Linked DNA regions of Homo sapiens: region 2 is linked to region 1. The links come from fine-mapping of genetic effects on gene expression. A gene starts in region 1. The other region holds a variant in brackets. All regions are shown on one strand. Distances are between the middles of the regions. Region 1 holds the start of FOXP1 (forkhead box P1). Region 2 overlaps FOXP1 (forkhead box P1).

The links. PIP is the estimated chance that this variant, and not a neighbour inherited with it, causes the effect. A credible set is the group of variants that fine-mapping cannot tell apart.
Region 2: its variant is the best candidate, but not a certain one, in a credible set for the expression of FOXP1 in whole blood (TOPMed, PIP 0.69).

The regions. Positions count from the first base shown.
Region 1 is chr3:71,581,620-71,586,010 of GRCh38, forward strand. It overlaps FOXP1 (forkhead box P1), which reads right to left and starts at 2,109. Exons shown (of 21, transcript NM_001349338.3): 1 at 1,952-2,109; 2 at 1-78. FOXP1-DT (FOXP1 divergent transcript) reads left to right here and starts at 3,324. Exons shown (of 1, transcript NR_182289.1): 1 at 3,324-4,391. RefSeq lists a silencer at 1,982-2,221 and an enhancer at 2,299-2,593.
Region 2 is chr3:70,950,864-70,955,254 of GRCh38, forward strand. FOXP1 (forkhead box P1) reads right to left here. Exons shown (of 21, transcript NM_001349338.3): 21 at 3,845-4,391. Among named protein-coding and RNA genes, the nearest start is that of FOXP1-AS1, 340 kb to the right of the region's middle. The variant G/T (reference allele first, on the strand shown) is at 1,732.

The sequences.
Region 1 (4,391 bases):
CCCCGGCGCCGCTGCCGCTGCCCCCGGCCCGCTCGCTCGCTCGCCGCGCGCTCTCTTCCTCTTACAAACTTTCGGGTTCTGCAGTCGACAAGAAACCGGGGCGACCCTCAGCAAGTCTTCCCCGTGCAGGCTGGGGGGAACTGAAGGGGACGGGACGGGTGAGTAGGCCGAGGGGCCAGGACAGAGAGGGCAGCGGGCTCCGAGGACCCGCGAGTGCGCGTGGAGGGAAGAGAGGATGCGGCTCAGGGAATCCCTGCAAGGATCCAGAGACCGGGAAATCGGCCCGAGCCAAAGTCTCAGCACCTTCCCCAGGATCTCACAAAGTTGCAACAACAAAAAGGAGGGGGGAGGAATAGGGAGAAGGGGGTGGGATGGGGATACGATCACGGGCGCAAGGTTTGGAGTTACAACTGTTTATTTAGTCCTTATTCTCACAGGGGGCGGGAGCTGCGCGGGAATGGGGGGCTGCAGGCAGCGATTTCGAAGCAAACACATGGGAGGGGGGCATGCGACTTTGTTTCCGGGAGCGGAGCTCCCCAGAGCCCGTGTGTGTCACTGCCAGTCTCCCGGGACCAAGGCGGAGCTCACAACAGGTGGGGAGGGGGGCTCGTCGAGGGCCAAAAAGAAGAAGGAATCTAAGTTTCCGAGCGCGACGTTGTCTGAAAAGGAGGGAGGCGGGAGGCGGGGGCGAGGGAAGGCGGAGGCAGCAAATGACCGCGACCCCGCGGCAACTGGCAAACTCCTCGGCTCCCGGCGCCGCCGCCACCGCCGTGGTCCCCACTCGAAGCGCACGCCGCCTCGGCTCGCTGGCTCCAGGGAGTCGTCTCGGCGGGACAGGAATAGAGCGCAGGGAGCTCGGGAGGAAGGCTGCGCGCAAGCGAGGGACGGAGAGCCATCGGCCGCCAGGACAGGGCCGGAGGGACGAGGCGACACGCGCGCGACGCAGGACAAATCGGAGCTTGGGAAATCTCCCCGTCCCCCAAGCTTCAGAGGGGGGTAAAATCAGAAAATGTGTGTGATGGTGGGAGAGAGATCCGGGCGCGGCGACTCCTCGCAGCGCATCCGGCTCCCGCACCCACCCGTGGATCTGGCCACGGCTGTTGCGGACTCGTCTCGGGAAAGCGGAGGCCGAGCGCGCGTAGGGGTGCGTGTCTGGCTGGGGGTGCGCAGGTGCGTGTTTGAATTTTCCGGGCTCCGAGGGGGTGGCGGGAGAGCTTCCTCGCCGCTGACTCTCGGGGTAACGCGCGCGTGGCAGCGGGGAAGTTCCCCAGTGCGGGGCCCAGGGCCAGGCACCACAGTCAGTTTGCTGGGGCCCGCGGGGCAGCTCAAGGGCACCGAGGGGGCACACACCCGCGGGGAAAGAAGGGGAAAAGTTTGCTCCAAGTCTAAACTTTGGGCCTAGGAGGCGCCCGGCGCGCGCCCCCTCCCGCCGCGGCCAGGACCCGGGACCCCGCACCGGCCCCGCGCCCGGGCGGCCACCGGACGCCAACGCCGGACATCGAAAGTTGCGCCAGGCGGCCTGGGCTTATTGATTTCTCTCCCCTAGGCGATCGTGGAGAGCGCAGAGAGAGGCGTGAAGGGGCCTACGGGCAGGCGATCTCGCCTCCTCACAGTCGCCACCGCCCCCGCCCCCATTTGACTTATGCAAATAAACCCAAAGGGTGCGGGCGCCGCCGGAGCTCCCTCCACCCGCGCGCCGGCCCGCAGCCCCCACCCATCCCAGAGCTGGGCCTCGACCCGGGGGGGAGAGGAAGAGAGGGGAGGGCTGGGGGAGATGCACGTGGAGCCTGGAGGTGGAAAGTAGTTGTTTTTTTTTTTCCATTTTTTTTCTCTTTTTCTTTCTTTCTTTTTTTTTTTTTGTGCTGGTTGTTGTTGTTGTTTAAAGTGGCGGAAACAAGACAGGAGGCGGCTTGGGAAAAAGTGGAGCAGAAATGGAAAAATACAAACTCACCCGCTGCAAATGGTCTCTCGGTGCAAACTAAGGTGTTTTCGGGCCTTTCCCCGCGCGCGCCCACTCCCGCCCGCGCGCGCACCCCGCGCACACACTCACTCGCGCACACACGCGCGCACACACGCACTCCCGGGCGAGGGCCGGGCCGCCGCGAGTACAGCGTGCAACCGCCACACAATAAATAACAATAGATTCCTCCGCTCCGGACTAGCTTCCCGGAGCCCAGCCAGCGCCGGTGGCGGCGGCGGCGGCGGCAGAGGCGCGGGCAGCACCGGCCCGGGGGCGCACCCCGGCCCGACCCTCTACCTCCCGCAGGGGTCCCCTCTCCGCTTCACGCACCCCGCTGGGCACTCCAGCGGCCCCCCGAGCGGGAGCGGCTCCCTCTTTGCCGTTCGCCGGGGCGCTGGCGCCCACCCCCCTCCTCCCTCCCCCCTCCCCCCCGACATCCCGGAACAAATAAATAAATAAGGCGCGCGAGAGAGGCCAACACGTCGCGGAGGGAGATGTTGTTATTTTTTGCTGTTGTGCGTCCCTGACGTCACATCCACCTGCTGGGTAAACAACCGGGCTCCCAGAAAAAAAAAATCGCAATTGCCAAAGAATGGGGGGGGGGGTTGGGGGGAGGGATCCAGGGAGGGGGAAGTGAGGGGCGTCCAGGCAGGATTGGAAAGAGGAGAGGGAGGCAGAGCCCCGCGGACCAGAGAGAGGAAGGGAACGCCAGAGCAGTCCCTGGCAACAGAGGGATCTGGCAGGAAAGACCTGGAAAATAAGGGGCAGGGGGGCGGAGGGGGAGATTCCTCAGGAGATGGGAAATGGGGGGCCCATTCAGACAGCGGAAAAAACGAGAAGGGAGAGTGTTAACTAGGGACGAAGATGGGAATGCGATGGCTATTTGCTTGGATTCTGAGCTAAAAATATGAAAGGGAGGGGAGAGGACAGGCTAGAATGTGAGTTTCCTCCAGTTAAAAGTGAAAGTGTTTTGCCATCAGTGACAGTTGAAGGAGAGCGGGGTGGGAGGTGGTGTTTTCAACCCCCTTTCTCCCTCTCTCCCGTCCTCCCTCGGTCTCTCCTCTTTCTTTCTGCACTTTGTCCAATGAAAGAAGGCGAGTTCGGGAGGTGAAAGTTCAGCAGAAGGACAAACCCCTGTTTGCAAGGAAACAGAAACCCCGCCAGCCAGCGAGGGGTTTTCTCCCCTGTTTCTCGGAATCAGGAGAGTGTGAATGTGGGACGAGCTTCTGCCCCCTTGTCAGAGCCACTGCAGGAATGTGCAATCGAGTCCACTTTGGGGGAAGGTGGCTGCATCAGGAACTGTGTTCTTGCCACGACTCCTCTTAGGAAAACGCCTGGGGGCTAGCATGTCAGTCCGTTGTTTAACACAAATTACCTGCTCTCCCAGTGATCAGTCACGTGCAAAAAGCTTTGTCCAATTCTTTGAAAAGGTGAGATTTTTTTTTTTCTTTTTGCGGTTTTTGAAGTTTGGTTGAATTTAGAAATTCGAAGGAATAAACTAAGAGCCTGAATTAAATGTTTTGAAATATACATACATAAAACAAAAGACACTAGTATTTCTTTCACTTTTATCAATACGCATAGAGAAGGAAGCAGAGTATGTGTTTCCAAAACGTGACTTGGAAAGCTGTAAGACCTCTATGTCTTGTTGTTGTTGTTGTTGTTGTTGTTAACAGAAGTAAATTTTTTCAGACCCACCACCACAGAAGTGGCCAGACTCCCAAACCAGCATTTCCAGCTACTGGCTGGCTGGTGTACACCAGGCCAATTCTTTATGAGAATATATTAAAAGTCACCCCTGTGGATTCCTACAAAGTACTTCCCCTTGCGGGGAGGGGAGAGGCTTACTGTCCCTTTGGTCTTGAGACCAGCACAGTTGTAGATAATATCCTGAAAAGGTTATTATTAAATTCTTTCGCGTAATGCCCCTTTACAAATATTGTTAAACATTAATTTACAGAAGAACTTAAATCTTAATTTCAAGGGTGGCATAAGACTATCGCTTTGAAATTGTATCTTTCGCAAGTTAAAAAAAAAAAATAACAAAGCCATTCGCTGATGCTACAGAATAAAAGAAAGGGAGGCTGCTAAGGTAATTTCAGCCTGGTAGAATTCACATTGCATGCATGCTGCATAAAGTTCCATGCTATCCAGATAAGACTATTCACTGAATCTTTTAGACTAGAATCTAGACCAATAAAATGCATTTTAGTTTGTATGGAATGTCCTAGCTTCCTAGAGGCTAGGGTTCGACGTCTTGTTTGTCAAGACATAAAGGGATTAATGACATACCCACTGTGTGCTAGACCACAGAGTGGGCACAGAGGGATGAAAAAATAAAAATTCCTGCCCTTGAGGAGCTCACAGTCTAAGCTGTCAATAATAACATCTAACATTTATTAAATACTATGATCTAGGCACTGAACTAAAA
Region 2 (4,391 bases), 630 kb before region 1:
TTAAAAAATTATTTTTGTTTTTTAGATTCAGGGGGTACATGTGCAGTTTTCTTACACAGCCAGCTGAATACTTCTAAAGAATTTAAATTTCTGGTCAGACAAATAATGCTCCGACCTGTTTGGCAGATTTTTTTTTTTCTATCCATAGAGTCCTAAAGTAGCAAGCTTGATTTGAAAAGAAATTATTAGTAAACATTTGAAAATGTGAAACAAATTATTCCCCAAACACTTAGCTCCTTCCTTCAAATACACGCTTGAAAAATGCTAAAATCTATTCTGCGAGAATGCTTGAATCTCTCCCTAAATCATAACACGGGTAAACTTACCGAACTATTTTTACAATTTTATTAGAGGTTTTAATTCACTGCTTTATCTATCTCTGTTAGACTGCAAAATAGCTTTAAATATTCAAGTGGTAATTAATGAATCTTTTATGTTGCAAATCAAACATTTTTCATCTGTGCACTGGTGGAGTAGCAGTGAGGAAGGATTTAAAGAGTAATTGTTCCCCCTCTTCCCCACTGGTGACCAGCATCTACGTTACGTTTTGGGGAAAGTGGGCTTGTGTTCCCTGCCCAGTGGGGTGAATGCGCAGTGTGAATGATGTCTGATGTCTTTCGGGAGGTCAGGATTTCTTGACATGTTTCTTGCCAGAGACATTCCCGACTAGATGGAAAGTCTTTGAATGTGGAATTTTTGCTTGAGTGCAAAATAATAAAAAGCATGTGTATGTTTGAAAAAAAAAAAAAGGATCAGCTTAATGGCAAAAGAGCATTGGCTTACATTAATATTCTATTACAGTAAAAACTTCTGTTTAATAAATTTTCTCCAGACTTTTTTCCTCCAGAATCTCACATATTTTTCTAAGTGGCATGCCAACCTAAAGAAAGTATATATGATACATTTGATTGATGTTAAGTCAATAGCGTGCAAAAGCCATTTAAAATTGTATTTTAAGTGTAGAAATATAAACCCAAGGAAACATGTATAGTACCCTATATTGAAAAGGGGAAAAAGGGTTAGCTTTTCAGGGGCTGAAATGCCTTGTAAATATTATTCTGTTTAGAAGATAGTTTTAAAATGTGGCGTTTTATGTCCAATAGTAAGAAAGCAAGTCTGAAATCCTGCGATTTAGTTTAAAACCCAAAATCAAGCTGGTATTAAAGACTTCGCATAACAAAATAGTTTTCCTTTTCTCTCTCTGTCACTAATGAGAAATGAGCCAGTGAGAGCAGCCCTTCAGAACTTTCACAAAGGACTGACAAATTCTTGATTGGATGCCATATCGGCCACCCTCTGCTGTTCTATGGCCCTAATTAATACTGGGCTTGGTGACATTTATGTATCAGAGCAGTAAGCTAAACAGGAAACAATTTATGTCACCTAAAGCTTTTTAACAAATCGATGCAACTATTTGTAATTGCTTGTTTCACAAGATTAAAAGTGCTAAGGCCTGATCTTCGCCCACGGATTTGTGGTCAACATGACCTGTGCTTCCGTTGTTTAAAAAAGAAAGAAAGAAAGAAAGAAAGAGTTGGTGATCAGCACTGACTTCCATCAAGTAATCCATATTGCTAATATTTCTGGAATTTTAATGTAGTTACAATTTATAGCCGATCAAATGTGGTTACCTAAATTGCTGTTGCTAGTAGACAGTTTAACTGTCTTTATTAATTACAGTATAATTTAATGTTTGAGTACCGGCACTTGTGTTGGTCATTTTTACAGCTC[G/T]AGCAGTTATCTGCCTTATGACGAACCATTTTAGCATTTTCAATGGAAATTTGCTAATATGATGAGTGATAAAAATGTCACACGCTGGTAAATAATGATTATTGCTTTGGCTGAAATTAATTCTTGAAAGGCCGGTTACCTTCAAATTAACATTATAACTTGAAGCTTGTCTTTTTCCCTTCACAATATTTTCAATATAAACCAAAAAAAAAGGACCGTTGATAATTTCAAATGTGTATATATATATATATTTTGGTATTAAGCATTGAATGTCATTTTACAATCAAAGTGGAAATAAGACAACATTGGGTTTTGTTATTTTAAAAAATAAAATACCATTTAAAAATAAATATAAGTAGGTTATATCTAGAGATGGTTTTCTAATCCAAATATTGTCCCACAGTTAAAACCAGTGTTTTTGTATGTAACTTAATTTCCCTCCAACGTGAATTTTGTCTTAAACCTTTCATCAATTCATTAAATGAAGGTTTGAGACACCCAACTTCACATTATTTGAATAAAGAATACTTTTATTTGATTCAACTACAATGAAGATGAAGGATAAATTGTGATTACTACCCTACACATAAATACGTAATATCATCAAAGACAAAAATCTAATAAGAAAGACTAATTATACTTTGTTTTTATCTTTTTTAGTGGGGAGGGAGAGGTGGTTACTATTATGAAGCTGCCTGTGTTGGTGTGAAATTAGTCTTAAGAGTTTTATGTTCTTTATATAAAGGCGCCTATTTATAAGAAGAGCCAATATTTTGGGTTTGCTGCCTCGTTTATGAGAGTGACAAGCCTGAAATAAATATGTAAAAGAGTGTTCCTGCTTGAGAACAATTCCTGAAATATAAGTTAAAATGTACTATGCCTCAACCAGCAAAATCTTCACTAACATATCGTCATACTTGGTTTAGGTCCTCCAGTTTATTAAAAGAAGTATCTGTACATTTTTAAATTTTACTAATGTATAGGCTGTAAGCAGTATTTAGGTTTAAGCCTGGTAATTACAGGAATTTGAATTAACCCTAAGATTATAGTCTCAGTAGCCAGGTGAGAATTAAAGGTTCAAATGTTTTGCTAATTATTGAGACTAAGGGGTTTCTAGATAGGGCATAATTGTTAATTCAAAGAGGACACTAGTTTGCAACTTAATAGCAAAATCTACTTGTTAAAAACACACACACAGACACACACACACAACTTTGCTAATATGGGCTTTTCAAAACAATGCTGGGAAAGAATGTTCACTTGTATCCTCAGCATCGGTGGGTGTTTTGCAGAATAAAGACTGGGAGGTTAATTTTCAAGTCATCCTTTGCCCTGAATTATGTGCTCTGAATTATATATGTAATGGTTTTATGTTACCACGGTTTGGCCACTTAAAATACTGCTTTCATATTGGCAATTTAATTTTTTATTGAAAGGTGATGCTCAAATTCATTAATCCCTAGAATATATACTATAGAGTAATATTAAAAAGAAACAGCACATTTCCTAAATGCATCTAATTATTTTTTTAAAATCTCAAAATTAAGATGGTTTTTCTGGAATATTTAGGTACTGAAGTTCTGTTTTCTTCAATGAATGCAATTATCTAGCATACTTTTGATAGAATATTTTTATAAAATCATTTGTTCTAATCTAAGCATTTATCATTATATGCAAAAAGATTTCTTGATGAGAATATTATAGACGGTGCATGTTTTTGACATTAGCATTTTATTTGGATGACTAATCTTGCAGATGTGAAATTTTAATGAATTATTCATGAAATTGCTTTCCTCTGAAATTTTAGTTTGCTCTTAATGCTAGTTATTAAACATTTTGTTTTTCTTTATAAAATTTGATGAAAAAAATAAGAGTGTGCTTCCTCAAGAGAAAAGATAACATCTCTTGCTCTTTTTTTTTTACTTCCCAATTCTCTAAGTGGATACTTTCACTTGGAAATCCTGAGGATAAGAGCTTCAGCCTTCCCTGATCATGAAAGCTTTAAGATTGATTTTAATTCTGCATTGGAAGCAGCTGGTGATAAACCTAAGGCATATGCCTAACATACAATATCAGCAGGTCAGAAAGGGAAACAAACTTAGGCTGTGGCAACTTTTACTACCAGCGTGAACAACCAGCATTTTTATTGCATTTGAGAATGCTTATAATGTCAGTAATTAGTACTGACTACACAACATTTTTTTTATTGTCTGTATCCGCAGACATGGAATGATGGAATTACAGTTGATGTCAAGGAATGAGTTTCTTTTATGCCTTATCAAAACAAAACAAAACAAAACAAAAAAATTCTTGTTACTGGCAGCACATATACATGAAGCACCATGCTCACAGTCCGGACTGTATCATCTTCATCAAGGCTTATGGGTAGCAGAGATTGCGTGAGCTACACTGGGCCCAAGAAATGCCTTCAGCATTGTAAATCTGATTTTCAGGATAAAGAAGCAAAACTGACTTTGAAGACATCCAGAATTTCAGGAGGCTATGTCATTAACCAAAAGGTACCAAAAAGATTCAAAATCTGAATAAGCACACTCTTCTTTGTGCCTTTGGAAACGGAGTTCAGCTGGAATATGGAAAAGAGAGGAAATATTTTTTAACTCTATTTTTTTTCATGAGGAAAAAAAAGCTAGTGATTTACA